Linked DNA regions of Homo sapiens: region 2 is linked to region 1. The links come from fine-mapping of genetic effects on gene expression. Tissue or cell type: whole blood. Region 1 holds a variant in brackets; the other region holds the start of a gene. All regions are shown on one strand. Distances are from middle to middle.

Region 1 (12,303 bases):
GATCTCCTGACCTTGTGATCTGCCCGCCTCGGCCTCCCAAAGTGCTGGGATTACAGGCGTGAGCCACCGCGCCCGGCCTGAGATGGGATTTCAACATGTGGGCCAGGCTGGTCTCGAACTCCCGACCTCAGGTGATCTGCCCACCTCAGCCTCTCAAAGTGCTGGGATTACAGGCTCGAGCCACGTGGCCCAGCCCTCTCCTGCACTTCCAAGGGATTTTCGAAATGCATGGACCTCTCAGGTTAATTATAGTGTCTGTAGAACCTTAACTGCTGTAAGCTTTCCAGCAGACTCCACAGACGTGTTATTAGTTGCCACCCTTTCTTTACTTTCCTCCTCACCCCCATGGATAGTCGTGACCCTGGTGGTCAGAGATAAGATGACAGAAGAGCTAAAGTAAAGCTGGTGTTGGCGATCAGCTGGGAATTCTCTAAAACAGCTTCTCACATTATTCTTATCCTCCATAGAAGGAGTGCTTGTCCTACTTGCAGGCAAGGCAGTTTGGTTCCAGGGTAGTTCGAAATCTTATTCACTGATATAGTCAGCAAATGTTTATTGAGCACCCACCAATTGCCAGGCACTGACTCACTCAAATTAGAGCACTGAACAAAATAGACCCCCTCCCCCATCCGTGGCAGACGTGTCATAATGAGAGGAAGACAGTACAATAAATGAACAGATGAATGTATGTCTGGTGATGAGTGTCAGGGTTGGTGTGCTTAGCACTGAAAATGGGGGCTTCTGAGGTTCAAATGGTTGCAGTTCCTAAAGAAGGTTGAGGGCCTTGCCTTCAGGTCACCGCGGGAGACTGGCCCCTTTCCACTGGAAACATTGCTTTGCCCAGTCAGTATTTGAGAGCTCAGCCTGCAATGGAGAAATCACACTTCTCCTCTTTCACCCTGCTCCCCACCCTGTTTCTCATTTTACCCATCCCCAGCCATTTGCAGAATGCATGCAGAGCTTCTGTTTGCCATGTCTGGAGGCTACAGGGGAGGCTGAATAAGGGGTGATAAGCCTGTGGCTCATGTGAGGCGGGAGAGAGCCCAGCAGGAGTCACACTGAAATGACTCCATTAGCCCCAGGAGGCCTTGGCCCACCGGCCATGACTAATGTGGACATTAGAGTGTGGATTCCGATGTCCTGCAAGATCCTCCTCACAAGTGTCATTTCATGGTTTTTTTCTGGCAACATCTTTTTGAAAACTCCCTGTAAAGAAGTGCTGATGTTGATGCTGAGGCCCAGGAACTTTGGAGTTTATTTACCTTTTTTTGTTGTTTTATTTTCCTTGGCAGGTGAAGTAGGAGCTAGAGTTTACTTATTTTGAAGTTTATTTGAAATATGCTTTTTATGATTAGAAGCCATTTTAGAAATGAGGGCGAGGCCGGGCGCGGTGGCTCATGCCTGTAACCCCAGCACTTTGGGAGGCCGAGGCAGGCGGGTCACGAGATCAGGAGATCGAGACCATCCTGGCTAACACGGTGAAAACCCGTTTCTACTAAAAATACAAAAAAATTAGCCTCGCGTGGTGGCGGGCGCCTATAGTCCCAGCTATCTGGGAGGCTAAGGCAGGAGAATGGCGTGAACCCAGGAAGTGGAGCTTGCAGTGAGCTGAGATCATGCCACTGCACTCCAGCCTGGGCAACAGAGCAAGACTCTCTCAAAAAAAAAAAAAATGTTATGCTAAGTGAGAGGAGCCACTTACAAGAGACCACCACATGTTTGGCCGGGTACAGTGGCTCATGCCTGTAATCCCAGCACTTTGGGAGGCCGAGGTGGGTGGATCACGAGATCAGGAGTTCAAGACCAGCCTGGCCAAGATGTTGAAACCCCATCTCTACTAAAAATACAAAAAAAAATTAGCCGGGTGCAGTGGCAGGCGCCTGGAGGCTGAGGCAGGAGAATCGCTTGAACTCGGAGGGTGGAGGTTGCAGTGAGCCGAGATCACGCCACTGCAGTCCAGCCTGGGAGACAGAGTGAGACTCCATCTCAGAAAAAAAAGAGGGCAAGAATTCACATGTTGTTTTACTCACACGTGTTGGAGATGGAGCTCAGGGTGATTCCTGACTGGGCCCAGGGTCCATGGCCTCAGAAGTCCCTTAATCTGAAGTCCTTCACTTTTATGTGATACTGCTGGGCACAATGGCTCACGCTTGTAATCCCAGCACTTTGGGGGGCTGAGGCAGGTGGATTGCTTGACTGAGGAGTTTCAACATGGTGAAACAAAAAATACAAAAAACTAGTCAGCCTGTAGTCCCAGCTATGTGGGAGGCTGAGGTGGGAGAATTGCTTGAGCCCAGGAAGTGGAGGTTGCAGTGAGCCGAGATCGCACCATTGCACTCCAGCCTGGGCGACAGAGCGAGACCCCATCTCAAAACAATTTTATATGTGATAGTTTGTCCATGTGTATGCCAGGGTCTGTCATTTAGAGTGTATGGCATGTTCTTAAAGGGGTGGGGGAACAAAAAGATACTATAATAGTTTGTGACCTTTTGAAGGGCCGCTCTACATGAATAGATATATAGTATGTCTGTGGTGTTAAAATTTTGTGGGGCGATTAGGAAAAACATTTCCAAAAAGTCTTAGGGGGAAGGTAGTAATGAAAAAAGGTTGAGAAACACCATTCCAGAGAGAGGGTCCAAGAGCTTTCCTCAGTTCTGAAAATGGTCCATGATTTGCACAAGGTAAAGAATGGCTGAATGCGAATTAACAGCAGACAGTTTCTTAGAAGATTTGAAACTATTGTTTCCTTCCCAGCTATTCAGATGGACTGCTCGGGTTCTTGTTATGGATTGAGGCGAGGGTAGACTTAATAGTCTTGTTTCAGAGTGGAATATGGAGTGATGGTAGGCATGAGTAGTGATGAGTTGCATTGTGCTGATAGGTTATGAAATGTAAATTTTTTATTTTTTGATATGGAGTCTCTGTCGCCCAGACTCTGGAGTGCAGTGGTGCGATCTCGGCTCACTGCAACCTCCACCTTCTGGGTTCAAGCGATTCTCCTGCCTCAGCCTCCTGAGTAACTGGGATTACAAGCATGCACCACCACGCCCGGCTCATTTTTTTGTATTTTTAGTAGAGACGGGGTTTCACCATGTTGGCCAGGCTGGTGTTGAACTCCTGACCTCAGGTGATCCACCTGCCTCAGCCTCCCAGAGTGCTGGGGTTACAGGCGTGAGCCACCGTGCCCGGCCTGAAATGTAAACTTTTATATCTAAATATTTTATATAGAAAATACCAAGATTTTATATCTGAAACACCAAGATTTTATGAGCCTCATAACTTAAGTAGGATTTGTAATTGTAAATGTTCTTTCCTCATAAATACCTGAGGTTTTTTTTTGAAAGGTTCTGAATTGTCTCAATAATGAAAACTTCCAGACACCCAAGCCTAGAGGAGATGGGTAGTTGGTAGCTTTCTGTACTGGAAACAGAAACACTCAAATATATAGAACCTAGCCAGCTAACCAAAGTAGGTAGATTTATAGATCATCTTAAAATAAGGCTGATTACACAGTAAATGTCACCTTTGGAATCTGGCTTGGTAGAATTGAAATAGGCTTCAGTACCTCCTGTCATTCAGTACCTGTTTTCTTGAACTCCTGACTTCAGGTGATCTGCCTCGGCCTCCCAGAGTGCTGGGCTTACAGGCATGAGCCACTGTGCCCGGCCTCAGTACCTCTTTTTAAGATGCTCTCATTCATTCCCTGGTGAAAAGATGCTTGAAGTGCAAGTGCAAGTAGGTGTGGAAAGCATGGAGGGTTTGTGTTGCTTCATTTGTTTTGGTATTTGTTTTTTCCACCAGTCCCTCCCTCTGGCTTTCTGCCTCCCAGCCCAGCATATCCTGATCTTGTAGCCATGCAGGACTTTGACCCGTGTGGTGGTTTGCCATTGTCTTCCTCCAGGTGAAGATAAGACATCATTGGTTTGGCTTGAGGTTGTACTTTTGGCCTTCCCTGTATATCCTCTTCCTCCTTATCCTCTCCGTCAGCATGCTTGGTTGGACTCTGTAGTGAAATGTGTCATTCTCTTTATTCTGACTGTCCCTATATTAGTCCTGTCTTCATAAAAAATACAATCGTAAAGATACAATATCTACTATTTGTTAAAAGTTTTGTGCTAGGCCAGGTGCGGTGGCTCACGCCTGTAATCCCAGCACTTCAGGAGGCCGAGGCGGGTGGATCATTTGAGCCCAGGACTTCAATACTAGTCTGGGCAACATGGTGAAACCTCGTTTCTACAAAAAATGCAAAAATTAACCGGGTATGGTGGCACACGCCTATAGTCCCAGCTACTTGGAGGCTGAGGTGGGTGGGTCACTGAGCACAGGTCAAGGCTACTGTGAGCCAAGATTGTACCACTGTACTCCAGCCTGGGTGACAGGGCAAGTCCCTGTCTCAAAAAAAAAAAGAAAGCTGTGTGCTAAATACTATTTTAAGCAATTATAATGGATTAAAAACTCCTTTAATCTTCACAACAATGTTTTTTCTTTCTTTTTTTTTGAGATGGAGTTCTTTGAAACTCTTGGATTAAATGACTCTTCAGAGCTTTCTTTGCTTTTTGATACTAAGGAGTGGCATGTCTGGGGATTTTTATAGCAAATAACTTCTCCTTGGCTACTATCCTTAGAATTCCAAGTGTTTTTAATGAAAAGAGGAGACTTGTTTTTAGTGATGTTAGTTGTTTTTAGGAAAGGTGTTCTGCAGTGTTTTTCGCTAAGGTGGCTCACGCCTGTAATCCCAGCACTTTGGGAGGCCGAGGTAGGCAGATCACTTGAGGTTAGGAGTTTGAGGCCAGCCTGGCCAGCACAGCAAAACCCTATCTACTGAAAATACACAAAGTAGCCAGGTGTGGTAGTACACTCCTGGAGTCCTAGCTACTCAGGAGGCTGAGGCAGGAGATGACTTGAACCCGGGAGGCAGAGGTTGCAGTGAGCCTAGATCGCACTATTGCATTCCAGCCTGGACGACAGAGTGAGACTGTCTTAAAAAAAAAAAAAAACATAAAATGGAGAGGTAGACCAGCTTACGGGAGGTGTTGCACTTCCCTCTGCCACTGGAGAGACTCTGGATCTGCAGCCAGGGAGCTTGTGAAGGCTTCTTGTCCACGGAAATGAGGGCGGCAGTTGTGACTTTCTGGATGGTGGCCCAGAGGAAGCAACACTGGCAGAGCCTCTTCTGTGAAGCAGCTCTGCGAGCAATTTTGTGACATTGAAAGAGCAAAGGATAAAACGTTGAAAGCTGATCCAGATCTAGAAAAGTGTTTGGCAATTGCTGGAAAAGGTGTAGAAATGATGCTTGCTCTGTATCGTAAGTTATATGGTGAGAAGACCACAAGCACGGTTCAAACTCCCCTTAGAAATTCTTTTGCACAGAAATTAACACTTTAATCCTAAATGTTTCCAATGTTTTAACTTACAGTATGCTAAATAAACATTCTTTCTGTTTGTTTGTTTTGTTTTGTTTTGTTACTCTGTGCATTTATAGCCAATAGAGTTTTTCTTTCCTTATTTTTTTGACACAGGGTCTTGCTCTGTCGCCCAGGCTAGAGTGCAGTGGTGCGATCTCAGCTCACTGCAACCTCCGCCTCCTGAGTTCAAGTGATTGTCCCGCCTCAGCCTCCCGAGTAGCTGGGACTACAGGCGCGCGCCACTGTGCCGGGCTAAGTTTTATATTTTTAGTAGAGATGGGGTTTCGCCATGATAGCCAGGGTGGTCTTGAAATCCTGACCACAGGTGTGAGCCACTGTATCTGGCCAAAAAAATTTTTTTATTTTTTGTAGAGACAGGGTCTCACTATGTTGCCCAGGCTGGTCTTGAACTCGTGACCTCAAATGATCCTCCTGCCTCGGCCTCCCAAAGTGCTGGGATTATAGGTATGAGCCACCATGCCCAGCTTGACAAAAAAATTTTTTTTTTTTTTTGAGAGATGAAGTTTCACTCTTGTTGCCCAGGCTGGAGTGCAATGGATCAGCTCACTGCAACCTGTGCCTCCTGGGTTCAAACGATTCTCCTGCCTCAGCCTCCAGAATAGCTGGGATTACAGGCATGCACCACCACGCCCGGCTAATTTTGTATTTTTAGTACAGACGGGGTTTCTCCATATTGGTCAGGCTGGTCTCGAACTCCTGACCTCAAGTGATCCACCTGCCTCGGCCTCCCAAAGTGCTGGGATTACAGGTGTGAGCCACCACGCCCAGCTGACAAAAATTTTTAAATGTCATTGAGCAGTATCATTTTTCCCACTGATTATGAGATTGCTTTGTGTGATCACACACTGACGGGCAGGCCAATTGCTGCTTGTATTCAGTATTTGGCCCCTTATAGAAAACATTTGCAGACCCTTGTTCTAGAAAAAACAGATGGGTGGGAGGAGGAGGAGGAGAAGCATTTCAGGAGTGGCTTTGGGCTTTCCTGTCCTGCACGTGGTGAGGCAAGAAGCTCTTGTGCCTCAGCTCATAGCACTCATGGGAGTCTGTCAATAACTAGAACCCTAGGAGTTATTTTTGCTTGTTTTAAAAATAAGCTTGTTTTGGGGCCAGGCGTGGTGGCTCACGCCTGTAATCCCAGCACTTCGGGAGGCCGAGGCGGGTGGACTTACAAGGTCAGGAGATCGAAACCACTGTGGCTAACATGGTGAAACCCTGTCTCTACTAAAAATACAAAAATCAGCCGCGTGTGGTGGCGGGCGCCTGTAGTCCCAGCTACTCGGGAGGCTGAGGCAGGGGAATGGCGTGAACCCAGGAGGCGGAGCTTTCAGTGAGCCAAGATCGCACCACTGCACTCCAGCCTGGGCGACAGAGCGAGACTCCATCTCAAAAAAACAAACAAACAAAGCTTATTTTAATGGATATAAAAACATGAATGAAATAAGACACCAAGTTCAAGGTGGTAGGGGGTTAATTTGGAAGAGGCAGAGCAAATGTGATTGAATGAGGGGTATGCAAAGGGTTTCTGCTCTATCCATATGTTTTATTTATTAATTTATTTTTGGAGAACAAAGTCTCGCTTTGTTGCCCAGGCTGGAGTGCAGTGGCGTGATCTCGGCTCACTGCAACCTCCACCTCTTGGGTTCAAGCGATTCTCCTGCCTCAGCCTCCCGAGGAGCTGAGACTACAGGCACGTGCTACCACACCCGGCTAATTTTTGTATTTTTCAGTAGAGATGGGGTTTCACCATATTGGCCAGGCTGGTCTCGAACTCCTAACCCCAGGTGATCTGCCCAGCAGGCCTACTCTATGTTTTAGTCCTTGAGAATGTTAGAATTTGATGACACTGAGATGTGGATATACCAGACATGGGGTATTTTCTGTACTCATCAGCATATTTGAAATATTTCATTAAAGTTCTTACTTTGCAAAGTAGACACAGCTGCAATTATGCATTTTTGGAAAATGATTAGGTACTATCTCATCTGTTTTGTTTTTTTGTTTTTTTGTTTTTGAGATGAGGTCTCTGTCACCCAGGCCTGAGTGCAGTGGCGCAATCTCAGCTCACTGCATCCTCTGCCTCCCGGTACAGGTGATCCTCCTACCTTAGCCTCTCAAGTAGCTGGGACTGCAGGTGCACACCACCACACCC[G/A]GCTCATTTTTTTTGTATTTTTGAGCTCAAGCAATTTGCTCGTCTCAGCCTCCCAAAGTGCTGGGATTACAGATGTGAGCCACTGGCCCAGTACTATCTTGCTAAGCCTATAAAATTAGATTAGATTGGTAGTACTTGGGACCCCTCAGAATTCTATAATGTCCTTCTTAGAAGGTGACAGCAGATCTATCCAGCAGACTGTAGATTGTTGTCTTAGTCACCGGCTGATTGTCTTGGTTAAAGCTCTAGTGACTTCAGAACCAGAGAAACTTGTTTTCCAACACATTCAAAGACCAGTTTGCTTTGCAATTTTGCAATAGCTGACATTCAGAATGCCTGCGAGGATTTTGTAAGTGAGGTTCATATTTCGGATAATGTGTGACTTTTGCCATTTCTGATGCTTTTCCAAAAGAAAGTTACTCTTCCCTAAAGGCAGGAATTCTACTTTTGCTTAGATATTCTGAAGCTTATGAGTTCATCCAAATTTGGTTCCTTTCAGCATTTTCCTGTTGGTCCGTCTCCGTTTTGAAAACATACAGAATGTACTTAATTTTGCCCTACCATTTGTGAGCATACAAAATAGCACTTGAGTCATATTTTTCATGATTGCTTCCCAATACTATTCTAAGACCAACATAGCATTTTGTCATTTCATAATAATAGAATTCCTCATTAAGGAATAACTTTCTAAAAATGTGTCCAGCCCATTTCCCCCCCAGCCCTGGCCGTTTCCTTTGGTATGTTGGTGTCCGTGACCCTGTCATTGAGTGTGACTGAAAACAGAGGCCTGGCAGAGGGCCTGGCCTTTGTGAGCCCTCAGATTGTGATAAAGACCCTGAGGAATGTTTTGGCTTTTAGGCAACCTCAGTTCTGTTTTCCTGCTGCCTGTTGATGCAGTGGCTTTTTCTTCCCATCAGTCTGAAGGGTCGTGTTAGTGCCTGGGCTCTCATCAGACCACAGGGAACTCATCCTGGCACTGCTGGCTGCCTCACTTTAACCACCTCAAGTCTCAGCATTCTCGTTTGTAAAGCGGAGATATTATTACGTGATTCACAGTTTTATTGTGACCATTAGAGGTAGGGCACATGATATGCCAGGCATCATGCTTGGCGAAGGCAATAAGTAATGCAGCCAGGTGCTGTGGCTCATGCCTATGATCCCAGCACTTTCAGAGGCGGAGGCAGCAGGATCACTTGAGACCAGCCTGGGCAACATGGTGAGAACCCCATCTTTACAAAAAATTAAAGTTAGCCAGGCGTGGTGGTGGGTGCCTGTAGTTCCAGCTACTCAGGAGGCTGAGATGGAAGGATTGCTTGAGCTCAGGAGGTCGAGGCTGCAGTGAGCTGTGATCATGCCACTGTACTCCAGCCTGGGTGACAGAGTAAGACTGAGTCTCAAAATAAATAAATACAAGGTTTTTGCAGAACAGTGAATGAGAAAATGCACTGTTGTTATTTGTGGTGGAAGTGAATACTATATGGCCTGTGTTTCCTGAAGGAACACTGCCTCCATTAAAACAAATGAGCAAACAAAATCCCTTTTCATGACTTCAGTTCTCTCAGGCCTGAGAGTAAAGTTTACATCATAGATGCTTAAAAACAATTCAGTTAGTGAAAGCATGTGACAAGATGAGACGATTTGTCTTCAACGAGGAGCTTCCTTCCATACTCACAAAAAGATGTGTGTCTTAACATAGTAAGGACATGGTTAAATTTAGTCTTATTTGGACCTAACTTCAGCCAATTAATCTGCTACTTAGAACTCTTTTACTCAAATGAAATTTGAGTAAAAAAAAAAAAAATTTTTTTTTTGGCCAGGTGCGGTGGCTCGTGCCTGTAAACCCAGCACTTTGGGAACCCGAGGCAGGTGGATCACCTGAGGTCAGGAGTTCGAGACCAGCCTCACCAACATTGAGAAACCGCGTCTCTCCTAAAAATACGAAATTAGCTGGTGTGATGGCGCAGTCCTATAATCCCAGCTACTCAGGAGGCTGAGGCAGGAGAATCACTTGAACCTGGGAGGTGGAGGTTGCAGTGAGCCGAGATCGCACCATTGCATTCCAGCCTGGGCAACAAGAGCAAAACTCCATCTTAAAAAAAAATTATTATAATAATTTTCAAGTATATACAAAGCAGTGACACATTTTGTAAACCCCCATGCACCATCACACAGCTTCAACAACTACCAACATCTGTCTTTCAGACATGTTTTTAGTCCAAGTTTTCTCTTAATAAAGAGACTTTTTCTTTTTCTTTTTTGTTTGTTTGAGACTGAGCGTTGCTCTGTCGCCCAGGCTGGAGTGCGATGGCAAGATCTTGGCTCACTGCAACCTCCGCCTTGCGGGCTCAAGTGATTCTCCTGCCTCAGCTTCCTGAGTAGCTGGGACTACAGGTGCCCACCACCATGCCCAGCTAATTTTTGTATTTTTAGTAGAGATGGGGTTTCGCCATGTTGGCCAGGCTGGTCTCGAACTCCTGACCTCAGGTGATCCGCCCACCTCACCCTCCCAAAGTGCTGGGATTACAGGCGTGAGCCACCATGCCTGACCATAAAGACATGTTTCTAAATTCTCCTGGGACAACAGTGAAGTTCTACCTTTCCTTCCTACTTTACCGAAGGAACCTGAAAATAAGGCTGCTTTCTGAAACTTAAACTACTAAGTCAGTGATATTTAGAGCAGATGTAAGCAGCTGTCTAGACACAGAATGGCTTCCCAGGCTCGCAAGACTTGTCATGAAGCCCCCAGCACGTCAACAGAAAGCATCCAAGCTAGAAGAGGCACTGGCTCACAGCAGCACCCCAGAAAGGAAGCGTCTCAGGGACAGATCGTGACCGTGCTCCGGAAGAGCTGTCCTCAGCCGCTACTGTGAGCATTTGGCCTGCCTGACAGATTCTGTTGGTGAGAATGTTCTTAGGAATCATACAGTAAACTAACTTTATTCTGACTTCAAGCATCGTGTTCCATTGATGCTTGCTTTCCAAGGTGTTTTGCTGATTCACATCAGCATGCAACCTGCTTGACAGAATACAGTGATGTTCTCACTGTAAATTCATCACCTGCTGCTGTGGTCTCATGTATCATCCCGTGCGCTGTTAGCTGAGGCCAGTGCTCCTGTGTCTCCTCAGCACGAGGGCACTGGCAAGAGTGCATGTCTGGGCCTATAAAGATGTTGGCCAGGTTCTAGGCAGGGTTGAATTCACCAAGGTAACTGCCATCCATCCCTCAATAGGCATTTTTTCTCCTACACACCCTCAGGCACATGCCACGTGTACCTGGCACCCTTACTTACGAAGTTACCGAATTCCTGCCATGATACTGTGGGTCACCCTGCTTCATTCTCAGGTGTGGTGTCGGGTGGTTCCTGCCTGGGCGCCGGGTGTTGTTGGGCCCTCCCTCAGGTTATTGGTTTTTGTTTTGAGATGTAATTCACATGCCATATGATTCACCCATTTAAGGTGTACAATATTCCCCTGAAGTTTATTGTGGAAAAAGGCTGTGTCTGACACTGCTTAGGAAGCTAAGACACAAAGCAGCCAGAGGGGCTGCCAGGGCTCACTGTGGCAGGGCGGCGGAGAGGCTGCTGGCGCCTCTGTAGCTGTTGGGTGCTCTTGCCTTGATGCTGTTTTCAGCTTTGGATTGTAATTGGGTCCCACGTGGGTCCTCTTCATCTCGTCTTGTTGGTGGCAGTGTTGCTCCCAGCGTTGGGGTGGGCAGAGTCACACACCAGAGGACCTCCTCCTGCTGTTTTCTCTGGACCTTGTTGATTATGTGTTTTGTGACCTTTGGCATATTGTACCTGTTCCAGGTGTACAGCCAGCTGGTTTTGGTTGATGTGTAATGGACAAAAGGTGCCCCTATTTAAAAAAAAAATTTTTTTTCTGCTTGTAGTCCCAGCTACTCAGGAGGCTGAGGTGGGAGGATCACTTGAGCCTAGGAGGCAAGGCTTCAGTGAGCCATGGTCCTGCCACTGCACTCCAGCTTAGGTGACAGAGGAAGACCCTATCTCAAAAACAATTATATAGGCCGGGCGCGGTGGCTCATACCTGTAATCCCAACACTTTGGGAGGCTGAGATGGGCGGATCACCTGAGGTCAGAAGTTCGAGACCAGCCTGGCCAACATGGTGACACCCCATCTCTACTAAAAATACAAAATTAGCCAGGTGTGGTGGTGCATGCCTGTAATCCCAGCTACTTGGGAGGCTGAGGCAGGAGAACAGCTTGAACCTGGGAGGTGGAGGTTGCAGTTAGCGGAGATCACGCCTCTGCACTCCAGCCTGGGCAACAAGAGTGAAACTCTGTCTCAAAAAAAAAAAAATTATCATAAAATCACTCGTTTTAAGTATATCATCCAAGGATTTTAGCACCTTCTACAGAGCTGTGCAGCTATTGCCACAATCCAATTTTAGAACATTTTCATCATCCCCTAAAGATCCTTTTACCCATCACTCCCCATTCCCACCCCCAGTACCAAGCAGCCACTCATCTACTTCCTGTGTCTATTGATTTGCCTTTTATGGACATACTGTACACTTTCATTCATATGAAGTGTCTAGATAAGGTACCCTCTAACGGGTGACTTTTCATGGTTAGCTTTTTTCAAATGATAGGGAATTTCCTGCTTCAGAAGATGCTTTTTCTGCTGTGCTACTTACCTGTGATCTATTGTGTGGGTGGGATTTCCTTGGAGGCATGTATGTGTTTGTTTGTTTTGCAGAGTAGCAACCTT
Region 2 (12,303 bases), 18 kb before region 1:
CTGGAGGGGGCTGAGGCTGCCGTCGTGGGAGGGGCTTGGCTGGCGGAGGCCGGGCTGCCTGTGGAGGCCTTGAAGCTTTGCCAGCAGCTCCTGGATGAAGTCCTGAGACAGGGTGGGGGAGCTGAGAACATGGGAACAGTGCGGGGGCACCCTCTGCCCCTGTCCAGCCCAGTCCCTGACCTGGGCGCCTCCTCCTGTTCTCTGATTGTGGGGTGGGGGGAGTTAGGGGCGGAGGCTATAGACATAGAGAGAAAAGTGAGCCGGGAGAAAGACAGAGATGGGGAAAGGGCGATGGGAGGGATGGAGAGAAAGAGCTAGGAAGAGAGATAGAGATCCAAGGAGACAGATACGGAGTGGGGGAGGGGGAGAAACAGACACAGAAACAGAGAGACATGTAGAGATAGAGACAGAGAGAGACATAAGGACAGAGAAAGAAACAGAGACATGTGGAGACAGGTCCCCAGAGATAGATCCAGGGCGAACAGAAATGCAATGACGTTTGTCCCTAGAGCTAGTTGGAGAAACATGAATAGTTTTCCCTTTTAAAGCAGGGAAGGAAGTGGGAGGGGTTGGGCCGCTCAGCTTCAGGGCCTGGGAGGATGGAGGGCCCCCAGAGGTGGGGAAGGGAGCCCGGGGTGGCGGAGGCAGTGACAGGGGAGGACAGAGGGAGACTGAGCCCGAAGGCTGGTGGCCAAAGGACAGGCACAGGAGAGGCAAAAACAGGGCAGATGGGGGAGGACAGAATGGAGCCCCCTCAGCAGATGGGGGAGAGAGGGAGAGAGACAAGTAGGAGGACAAAAGACACCCCTGGAGACCAGAAAGAGCTGCGGAGGGCAGGTTGGGGCCGGGGGTGGTGGGGCCGGGTGGTGTTCCCCAGAGACCCTTCTGCCAGCTTCTTCCCCCTCCCCCATCAGAGTACTTGGGGCCAGAACAGGGAGAGAATGAGGGAGAGAAAACTCACCTCGACAGGTTTCCCACATGACTTCAGGAGTCCCTAAAACCCCCAACCAAGAACAAAACAAAACAGTAAATGACTAACACCTACTCCCCTCCAGCCCCTTCCCTTTCCCAAAAGGCCCCAGCAGCAAGACAAATGGAAGTCAGACTCCAGGGTGGACTGCCCACCAAGCTTCAAGAGAGGAACAGAGCCCAAGGGGCATGTGGATCGACTCAGGGCAGGGGTGAGTTACTAGATCCAGAGAGGGCGAGAGGGTCACACAGCACTTCCCTCCTCTAAAAAGGTATAAGCCATAAGCAAAGACATGGCTGCCAAACTGCCTGGGTTCGATGCCCAGCTCTGCTCCTTCTGAGCTGTGTGACACTGGGCAAGGGATTCAACCTCTCTGGGCCTCATTTTCCTCATGGGGAAAATGGAGCTCACACTAGCGCCTGCTTCGGAGGGTTTTGTGAGGGTTAAGTGAGTGAATACATGTAAAGCCATCACACCAGTGCCCGGCATCTAGTGAGCACTCAGTAAACACGTGAACTATTGCTATTATTTTTAGGGAGGTGCAAAGTGGGAGGCTGGGGGACACGTCCCCCCACCTACCTGGATTTTCCGGCTTCTCTCCTCTTCACTCTCTAACTCCAACAATTCATCAATGTTGATCTCATCGGGCATGTCTGCCTCCTAGGGCCAGGGAGGGAGGGGTGCTTAGGATCCCCTTCCCTCCCTCCCTCGCCTTTGTCCAGGGCTCTGCAGGAGCCCCACCGGCCCCAGGGCCCAGCTGGCGGGTTCTGGAGCATTAATGTGGCAGTCCGGGACAGCACTGCCAAGACGGGACATCTGGGTGTTGGGGGGGAGGGGTGACAGATGGGCTGAGAGAGCCCCGGGGCCCTGTACCAGCCCGATGCCTGGGCCCATGGGCCCCGGGAGCCTCGGGGCTGGCACGGGTCTCTCGCCTTGGCTCTAGTTCCCACAGAGGAAAACAGGCCTAGTGGAGTCCTGGAATGTCAGATTCTGGGATTCGGGAGAGGAGCTGGCTTCTGCCCTTTCAAGGAAAAGTCTTAGCACTAGGTGCAGGGGAGGAGAGGCTGGCAGCCAGCAGCCAGCTGGGGCGGCCCCTTCCCCCAGGGGACAGGAAGGGAGGGGACAGGAAGGGAGGGGACGGCTTGGGCCAGCCCCCAGAGGGCCAAAATGCAGCCTGGTGAGACCGAAGGGAGGACCACCGAGGCCCCTCAAGGTGGGTGGGTGGGATGAGTCATGGCTCAACTCAGCTGCTAAGAGCGGGGCGCTGAGTGTGGCCTCTACAGGCAGTGGCCCAAGCGCAGGCTGGCTCAGTACCCCTGCTGGGAATAGGACCCAGCTGTCCCCAGCTGTCGAGGGAGCAAGAGAGCCTTGGGGTTATGAATCCTTTCCTCCCCAACCCAAAGTCCGGCTGTCGGCTTCAGGCCTGGGGCTTCAGGGCTGGATGGTCCTGGTTCATGTGTGGTGAAGGGGCTTCAGCAAGGACACAGGTGTGTGAGTCTCTGCCAGGGCCACAGCCTGATGCCAAGGGCCTGGGGCTGGCCGAGGATGCAGAGGGACCTGGCATCGTGCAGTGGCTTCGTATAGTGGACTGTGGTCCTGCAGGTGTGAGGTGTGTGGCTCTGGCTTGGGTGTGTGACACATCAGCATGTGTCCACAGTCAGCTGTGGGGCCCACCACCTGAGAATGGCCTCATAGATGCCACCTGCCACTAGCAACCAGATTGGTTCACCTGTATGGGCCCAGGTGTGAGTCTGAGAACAGAGGGACTGCATGTCACCATGGGAGAAGGGCCATGCCTTCCACCATTGTCGCACCATGAAGAGGAGGACTCGTGGGTCCTGTGTACACTGTAGCATACAGAAGTCACAGAAGGCCAGGCGCAGTGGCTCACGCCTGTAATCCTGACATTTTGGGAGGCCGACAAGAGAGAATTGCTTGAGCCTAGGAGTTCAAGATCAGCCTGAGCAACATAGCGAGGCCCCATCTCTTTTTCTTTTTTCTTTTTTTTGAGACAAAGTCTCCTTCTGTCACCTAGGGTGGAGTACAATGGCGCGATCTTGGCTCACTGCAACCTCCGCCTCCCGGGTTCAAGTGATTCTCCTGCCTCAGCCTCCCAAGTAGCTGGGATTACAGCTGCCTGCCACCATGCCCGGCTAATTTTTGTAATTTTAGTAGAGACAGGGTTTCACCATGTTGGCCAGGCTAGTCTCGTACTCCTGACCTCAAGTGATCTGCCCACCTTGGCCTCCCAAAGTTCTGGGATTACAGGCGTGAGCCACTGTGCTCGGCCAATGAGGCCCCACCTCTAAGGAAAAGAAAAAAGAAGTCACTGAAAGTGTGACTTCAAGCAGAAACTCAAGTGATGAAGTACCTGTGTGTGTCAATACATGTAGCTGTGGCTTAGGCTCTTGTGTGCCTGTGAGCAGCGGTGGGTTCTGCAGTTGTATGTCCACCTGTTCCTATAGCTTACAGTTTTTTGTTTGTTTGTTTGTTTTTGAGACGGAGTTTCGCTCTTGTTGCCCAGGCTGGAGGGCAATGGCGGGATCTCGGCTCACCGCAACCTCCTCCTCCCGGGTTCAAGCGATTCTCCTCCCGAGTAGCTGGGATTACAGGCATGTGCCACCACACCCGGCTAATTTTGTATTTTTTAGTAGAGACGGGATTTCTCCATGTTGATCAGGCTGGTCTCAAACTCCTGACCTCAGGTGATCCGCCCGCCTCGGCCTCCCAAAGTGCTGGGATTACAGGCGTGAGCCACCGTGCCCGGTGCTTACACAGTTTTATGTCTGGGTGTAGTTATAAATTCTGTTGGGTTTTGTTTGTTTTTGAGACACGGTCTCGCTCTGTTGCCCAGGCTGGAGTGCAGTGGTGCAATCTTGGCTCACTGTGACCTTGGCCTCTCAGGCTCAAGCAATCCTCCCACCTCAGCCTCCTGAGGAGCTGAGATTACAAGTGCGTGCATGCCACCACGCCCGGCTAAGTTTTAAGATTTTTGGTAGAGACAGGTTTTCCCCATGTTGCCCAGGCTGGTGTTGAACTCCTGACGTCAAGCAATCCTCCTGCCCCGGCCTCACAAAATGCGTGAGCCACTGTGCTGGGCCAATTTCTGTTGTTTTATGTCTTTGAGTGGCTGCGGATCAGCGCTTGTGCTTGAAGGTGGTCAGTTTTTTCTTTAGGAGATAAGGAAGGGCCGTAACTTGAGTCATTTTGTGTTCCAGTGGGGTTGTGCTGTGTCTGCCTACGGCTGTGGCCCATGCCGCTGTGTCTGCGGGTGGCTGTGACTGTAGCATATGTTGAACTGTAGGTGACCCCCCCCCAGCCCCCGCTTGTGTCCTTGTGGGTTTGTGCATGGCTGTTACTTCTGGGCTGTGTCCGTGAGTGGCTATAGCTTCCTTCACTGTGCACATCTGTGTCTGCTTTTGCTTCCTTTGCCGTGGGTCTCTGTGTGGCTGTATCTCCCCTGTCACCATGTCTGTGTTTGGCTTTATGACACCCCCCTTCCCCCACTCTTTCTCCAGACGTGGCGGTTTCAGCTCAACTTAGCCTCCTCCCTCCTCATGCTAAACCCCTGGCCCTCCACAGGCGTTTGGACACATCTCTGGAGACCCAAGTCTTTGTGTGTTGCTCTCGGTGTGTCCACAAGCACAATGCCATAGAGCACGGATGGCCAGGCCAATGAGTGCCCGGCCCTGGGGCGCTCGTCCTCTTGTGCAGACCAGGCTGGCCGTGCACCAGCGAGTGTGCACCGAGACCCCAAGGGCGTGGGGTCTCCGCGCCCGGGCTCTATCTGTCCCCGACCACCCCCGAGCCCTCCCCGGGCTCACCATGCCGCGGTACAGCTCCTCCAGGCGCCCGTCGATCCACTTCTCCACGTCCAGCCGCCGCTGCAGCTCCCGCCGGTCATACTTGACGGTGACGCGCGCGTGCCGCTTCTGCAGCCCCCCGGGACTGCCCCCTGGCCCGCGGGCCCGCGATGGAGACTGCAGCTTGCTCAGCACGCGCTTGCCCAGCCGCTGAGCTGCCATCGCGCTGCTGGACCCAGCCTGGCCCCGCGCTGTGCGCCTTCGCCTCGCGCCCCGGGTGCTTCTTACGGGCCAGGGCGGGGCTAGCCGGGGGCGGGGGCTCGGGCTCGCCGGGAGGTCTGCCCCACCCCGGCCGCCTCAGGCCTCAGTTTCCCCGTCTGCAGTGCGAGAGTAGGCCGCTGCGTCGGCTTGAGGCACGCAGTCGTGCGAAGTTGAGGTATGGGCGGGGACCCAGAGTCCCGGGCGGGTCCCTGCATCGGGGGCTCCCGGGCCGGGATCCTGTGGGGCGGGGGCCTGGGACAGACACTCGGGACCCGGCCTGTCTGCGCCCTCTGGCGGTGGCGGGGTGGGGGGCTGTTGGTGCGGGAGCGCCTGCGCCGCTGTCGCTGTAGAAGGTCGAGCGGTCACTTGTTCCTTCGTTCATTCATTCACTCATCCATCCATTTGTTTGTTCACTCATTCCGTTCAACGAATTTTTTTTTTTTTGAGTCGATGTCTCTCTTTGTCGCCCAGGCTGGAGTACAATGGCGCGATCTCGGCTCACCGCAACGTCCGCCTCCCAGGTTCAAGCGATTCTCCTGCCTCAGCCTCCGAAGTAGCTGGGATTACAGGGATGCACCACAACACCCGGCTAATTTTTGTATTTTTAGTAGAGACGGGATTTCGCCATGTTGGCCAGGCTGGCCTCGAACTCCTGACCTCAAGTGATCTGCCTGCCTCCGCCTCCCAAAGTGCTGGGATTACAGGCGTGAGCCACCGCCACTGGCCCGGTTCAACGAATATCTATTAAGTATCCACTCTATACCAGACACTGCTTTACGCTCCAGGGATAGAGCAGGGAACAAAACAGACAAAACCAGTCCCACGCAGTTGACAGTTGTAGCCGGGATACATGAGAAACACAGTAAGTACGGTATTATACAGTTTATTATCATATAAGTGCTTTGGAGAAATATAAAGCAGAGAAGGAGAAATGGAGTGAGGGTAAGGTTGCAATTTTAGCGAGGGTGGCCAGGGAAGTCCCTTACTTCAAAACAGTCTTCTCACTTCTAATTATAAGCAGCAATAATTATACTCTAAAATTTAAATGTGGCTGGGCGCAGTGGCTCACTCCTGTAATCCCAGAACTTTGGGAGGCCAAGGAGGGTGGATCACGAGGTCAGGAGTTCAAGACCAGCCTGGCCAACATGGTGAAACTCCATCTCTACTAAAAATACAAAAATTAGCTGGGCCTGGTGGCACATGCCTGTAATCCCAGCTACTCGGAAGGCTGAGGCAGGAGAATCGCTTGAACCCGGGAGGTGGAGGTTGCAGTGAGCCAAGATAGCACCATTGCACTCCAGCCTGGGCAACAAGAGCGAGACTCTGTCTCAAAATAAATAAATAAATAAAATAATAATAAATAATTTTTTTAAAAAGGCCAGGCATGGTGGCTCATGCCTGTAATCCCAGCACTTTGAGAGGCCGAGGTGGGCAGATCACGAGGTCTGGAATTCAAGACCAGCCAGGCCAACATGATGAAACCCCATCTTTACTAAAAATACAAAAAAAAAAAAAAAAAAGCCAGGCGTAGTGGTGTGCACCTGTAATTGCAGCTACTGGGGAGGCTGAGGCAGGAAAATTGCTTGAACCCAGGAGGCAGAGATTGCGGTGAGCCAAGATCGCACCACTGCACTCCAGCCTGGGTGACAGAGCAAGACTCCATCTCAAAAAAAAAAAAAAAAATTGTAGAGACAGGGTCTCCCTATGTTGCCTAGGCTGTTCTCCAATTCCTGGGCTCAAGCGATCCTCCCACCTCGGCCTCCCAAGGTGCTGGGATTATAGGCATGAGCCACCTCACTCCACCAGCCAGCCATAATGTAAAACTTTTGAGTTTCAAAGAACATCATCAAGAAAGTGAAGAGACAACCCATGGAATGGGAGGAAAAAAATTGCAGTCATGAAACTCATAAGGTGCTGGGACGAGCCACCACACCTGGCCAAACTATACACTTTAAAAAGGTGAGTTGGGCCAGGCACAGTGACTCACGCCTGTAATCCCAGCACTTTGGGAGGGCAAGGCGGATGGATCATCGGAGGTCAAGAGTTAGAGACCAGCCTGGCCAACATGGTGAAACCCCATCTCCACTAAAAATACAAAAATTAGCTGGGCATGGGGGCACATGCCTATAATCCCAACTACTCAGGAGGCTGAGGCAGGAGAATCGCTTGAACCTGGGAGGGGGATGTTGCAGTGAGCTGAGATCATGCCATTGCACTCCATCCTGGGCAACAAAAGTGAAACTCCATCTCTAAATAAATAAAGGGTGAGTTGTATGGTATGTGAGTTATATCTCAATAAGACTGTGTTTTTTTTTTTTTTTTTTTTTTTTTTTGAGGCAGAATCTCGCTCTGTTGGCCAGGCTGGAGTGCACTGGCATGATCTCAGCTCACTGCAACCTCTGCCTCCCAGGCTCAAGCAATTCTCCTGCCTCAGCCTCCCGAGTAGCTGGGATTACAGGGGTGTGCCACCACGCCTGGCTAATTTTTGTATTTTTAGTAGAAACGGGGTTTCACCATGTTGGCCAGGCTGGTCTTGAACTCCTGACCTCAGGTAATCCACCTGCCTAGGCCTCCCAAAGTGCTGGGATTACAGGCGTGAGCCACCGTGCCCGGCTTCAATAAAGCTGTTTTATTTCAAAATTAAAAACAGGCCAGGCGCCATGGTTCACGTCTGTAATCCCAGCACTTTGGGAGGCTGAGGTGAGTGGATTATCTGAGGTCAGGAGTTTGAGACCAGCCTGACCAACATGGTGAACCCGTCTCTACTAAAAATGCAAAAAAAATTAGCCAAGCATGGTGGTGCACCCCTGTAATCCCAGCTACTCAGGAGGCTGAGGTGGGAGAATTGCTTGAACCTGGGAGGCGGAGGCTGCAGTGAGCTGAGATCGTGCCATCACACTCCAGCCTGGGCGACAGAGAAAGACCCCATCTCTAAAAAAACAAAAATAAAAAACAACTATCCATAGCTACCCATGACCTTCAGTCTAAAGGCCAAACTCTGGTTTAGCAGTCCCATCTCTGCCAGGGACAGTCCCATTTCAGCACCAGCACCTTTCACTCGCAGTTCCCTCTGCCAGGAAGGTTCTTCCCTAGAATATCATCAGGGCTCACTCCTTCACCTCCCTCCAATGTCACTGTTCAGTGAGGTCTTCCCTGGCCACGCTATTTCACACTGCAACTCTCGTGCCCCTCATCCAGCTCTGTTTGATACATAACACTTACCACTTTCTAACATTATATATATATATATATATATATATATTTTTTTTTTTTTTTTTTTTTTTTTTTTTTTTTTTTTGAGTTGGAGTCACCTCAGGCTGGAGTATAGTATTGTGATCATGGCTCACTGCAACCTCTGCCTCCTGGGTTCAAGAGATTCTCCTGCTTCAGCCTCCTGAGTAGCTGGGACTACAGTTATACACCACTGTGTCCGCTTACTTTTTATATTTTCAGTAGAGATGGGGTTTCACCATGTTGGTCAGGCTGGTCTCGAACTCCTGACCTCAGACGATCTGCCCGTCTTGACCTCCCAAAGTGCTGGAATTACAGGCATGAGCCACCATGCCTGGCCTCTAACATTATATATAATGTACTCATTTAATGTATTGTCCATGCCAGGCGTGGTGGCTCACACCTGTAATCTCAGCACTATAGGATGCTGAGGCAGGAGGAGCAATTACATCCAGGAGTTCAAGATCAGCTTGGGCAACATAGTGAGACCCTGTCGCTACAAAAAAAAAAAAAAAAAAAAAAAGCCAGGTGCAATAGTACATGCTTGTAGTCCCAGTTACTCTGGAGGCTGAGTTGGGAGGATCACTTGAGTCCAGGAGATGGAGGACGCAGTGAACTGTGATTGCACCACTGCACTCCAGCCTGGGTGATGGAGTGAGACCCTGTCTCAAAAAGAAAAATGTCATATTTTCTGTTCTGTGCAGTGACAGAAAAAAAAAATTATTGTCTGTTTCCCAACTAGTAGCATACTAAAGGCAGGGGGACAGGACTGGTCCACTTTGGGTACAGGCAAAAAGAGGGTGCACTGTCTGTAGAGAATTTAAAAATAAAAAGCTGACCAAGGCCGGGCATGGTGGCTCATGCCTGTAATCCCAGCACTTTGGGAGGCCAAGGCAGGCAGATCACCTGAGGTCAGGAGTTCAAGACCTGCCTGGCCAACATGGTGAAACCCCATCTCCATAAAAATACAAAAATTAGCCGGGTGTGGTGGTACAAGCCTGTAATCCCAGCTACTTGGGAGACTGAGGCAGGAGAATCGCTTGAACCCGGGAGGTGGAGGTTGCGATGAGCCAAGATCGTGCCATTGCACTGCAGCCTAGGCGACAGACAGAGTGAGACTCCATTTCAAAAAAACTGACCAAAAGTTGGTCTAATTTTTATTTTACTTTGCAGTGACATTTCTAAACAGTGTCAATGATAAAATAGTCCTCCCCAGGGAAGAAACAGAAACAAAAACCTTTTGGTGGTCTGCTTTCTAAACAATTGATGCAATATAAAAAAGGGGGAAAAAAACAATTGATGCAATTACTGTCGGTTTTTTTTTTGTTTTGTTTTTGTTTCATTTTTTGAGACGGAGTTTCGCTCTTGTTGCCCAGGCTGGAGTACAATGGCACTATCTCAGCTCACTGCAACCTCCACCTCCCAGGTTCAAGCGATTCTCCTGCCTCAGCCTCCTGAGTAGCGCGGATTACAGGCATCCGCCACCACGCCCGACTAATTTTGTATTTTTAGCAGACAGGATTTCTCCATGTTGGTCAGGATGGTCTTGAACTCCCGACCTCAGGTGATCCGCTCGCCTCGGCCTCCCAAAGTGCTGAGATTACAGGTGTGAGCCAACCACGCCTGGCCTACTGTCAAGGTTTTTTTTTTGGTGTTTTTTTTTTTTTTTTTTTTTTTTTTTTTGAGACAGAGTCTCGCTCTGTCACCCAGGCTGGAGGGCAGTGGTGCAGTCTCAGCTCACTGCAACCTCCGCCTCCCGGATTCAAGCTATTCTCCTGCCTCAGCCTCCCGAGTAGCTGGGACTACAGGCGCCCGCCACCGCGCCCGGCCTCTTTTTTTTTTTTTTTTTTTTTTTTTTTGAGAACGAGTCTCGCGCCGTCGCTCAGGCTGGAGTGCAGTGGCGCAATGTCGGCTCACTGCAAACTCCACCTCCCAGGTTCAAGCGATTCTCCTGCCTCAGCCTCCCAAGTAGCTGGGACTACATGCGCCCACCACCACGCCCGGCTAGTCTTTTGTACTTTTTTTCAGTAGAGACGGGGTTTCACCGTGTTAGCCCAGATGGTCTCCATCTGCTGACCTCGTGATCCGCCCACCTCAGCCTTCTAAAATGCTGAGATTACAGGCATAAGCCACCGCACCCGGCCCTTCTTTTTTTTTTTTTTTTTTTTGAGACGAAGTCTCACACTGTCGCCCGGGCTGGTGTGCAGTGGGGCGATCTCGGCTCGCCGCAGCCTCCACCTCCCGGGTTCAAGCGATTCTCCTGCCTCAGCCTCTCCAGTGGCTGGGACTACAGGCGCGCGCCACCACGCCCGGCTAATTTTTGTATTTCTAGTAGAGACAGGGTTTCACTATGTTGGCCAGGCTGGTCTCAAATTCCTGACCTCGTGATCCGCCCACCTCGGCCTCCCAAAGTGCTGGGGATTACAGGCGTGAGCCACCTCTTTTTAATGAACTCTGAAGGATGATAAAGGCCAAGGGACAAACATTCCAAGCATCAGGAATGTTGATGCTTGGAATGTTTCTCAGGACAGATATGGAGATGCCCAGGCCTCCCAAAGTGCTGGGGATTACAGGCGTGTGAGCCCGGCCTCTTTTTTTTTTTTTTTTTTTTGAGAACGACTCTCGCGCTGTTGCTCAGGCTGGAGTACAGTGGCACAATATTGGCTCACTGCAAACCCCGCCTGCCGGGTTCAAGAGATTCTCCTGCCTCAGCCTCCCGAGTAGCTGGGACTACATGCTCCCGCCACCACGCCCGGCTAATCTTTTTGATTTTTTCACCGTGTTAGCCAAGATGGTCTTGATCTGCTGACCTCGTGATCCACCCGCCTTGGCCTCCCAAAGTGCTGGGATTACAGGCATGAGCCACTGCGCTCAGCCCTCCTTTTGAGTTTTTGTGTTTAAAGTTCAAAACTGGACAGATGCAGTGGCTCACGCCTGTAATCCCAGCACTTTGGGAGGTCAAGGTGGGCGGATCGTGAGGTCAGAAGTTCGAGACCAGCCTGGCCAACATGGTGAAACTCCATCTCTACAAAAAATACAAAAATTAGCTGGGCGTGGTGGCGGGTGGTGCCTGTAATCCCAGCTACTCAGGAGGCTGAGGCAGGAGAATTGCTTGAATCCAGGAGGTGGAGGTTGCAGTGAGCTGAGATCACAGCATTGCACTCCAGCCTGGGCAACAGGTGAAACTCTGTCTCAAAATAAAATAAAATAAAGAAAGAAGAGGCCTATACCTTCTTCCAAGCCTTGACGGCTCAGCACATACTTCTCTGTTTTCATGCTCAAGCCTAGGTTTAGTAGGCCTGAGTGGCAGTGGGAGATTCAAGTGCTGGGGGAGACCTTTGGCCTCACATTCAGATTCCACCTTGAGTCCCATGATCTCATTGCAAGGTTAGACTTCCATTGTTTAAGGTAAATACCATTTTGATAACTCAGTTACGGCTTTTCATGTATTATTATGCTAGGAGGGAGGCTGAAGAGTGGGAGTGGCCCTGGCTCCTGAACACACTATTCTCTTTCCTGCCTGAAGGCCTCCGCATGTGCCATTCCTGATTCTTGGAATGTTTGTCCCTTGGCCTTTATCATCCTTCAGAGTTCATTATCAAAGCCACCCCTCACAAAGCCCTTCCTCCGCCACCCCATTCAAAAGATCTCTTGTTATTTTCCATCCCAGCCCCTGATTCCTTTTCTGTATAGCACTGTCAAAGTGTTTTCAGGCCAGGTGTGGTGGTTCACGCCTGTAATACAACACTTTTGGAAGGATGAGACAGGAGGATCCCTTGAAGCCAGGAGTTTGAGACCAGCCTGGGCAACATAGCAAGTCCCCTGTCTCCACAAAAAATTTAAAAATTAGCTGGATGTGGTGGCTCACATCTGTAGTCCCAGCTACTTGGGAGGCTGAGGTGGGAGGATCCCTTGAGCCCAGGAGGTCAAGGCTGCAGTGAGCCAAGATCACTCCATTGCACTCCAGCCTGGGCAACAAGAGCAAAACTTCCATCTCAAAAAAAAAAAAAAAAAGAAATAATCTAAAAGTGTTTTCAA

What was found.
Region 2: PPP1R14A starts here. The variant in region 1 is fine-mapped to the expression of PPP1R14A in whole blood (TOPMed, PIP above 0.99).

The regions. Positions count from the first base shown.
Region 1 is chr19:38,269,831-38,282,133 of GRCh38, forward strand. All of the region lies in intron 1 of SPINT2 (serine peptidase inhibitor, Kunitz type 2), which reads left to right. Among named protein-coding and RNA genes, the nearest start is that of SPINT2, 11 kb to the left of the region's middle. The variant G/A (reference allele first, on the strand shown) is at 7,576.
Region 2 is chr19:38,251,345-38,263,647 of GRCh38, forward strand. PPP1R14A (protein phosphatase 1 regulatory inhibitor subunit 14A) reads right to left here and starts at 5,030. Exons shown (of 4, transcript NM_033256.3): 1 at 4,795-5,030; 2 at 1,550-1,630; 3 at 962-994; 4 at 1-102. The coding sequence starts at 4,995. RefSeq lists a silencer at 4,822-5,009 and enhancers at 9,845-10,782, 10,783-11,719, 11,860-12,303.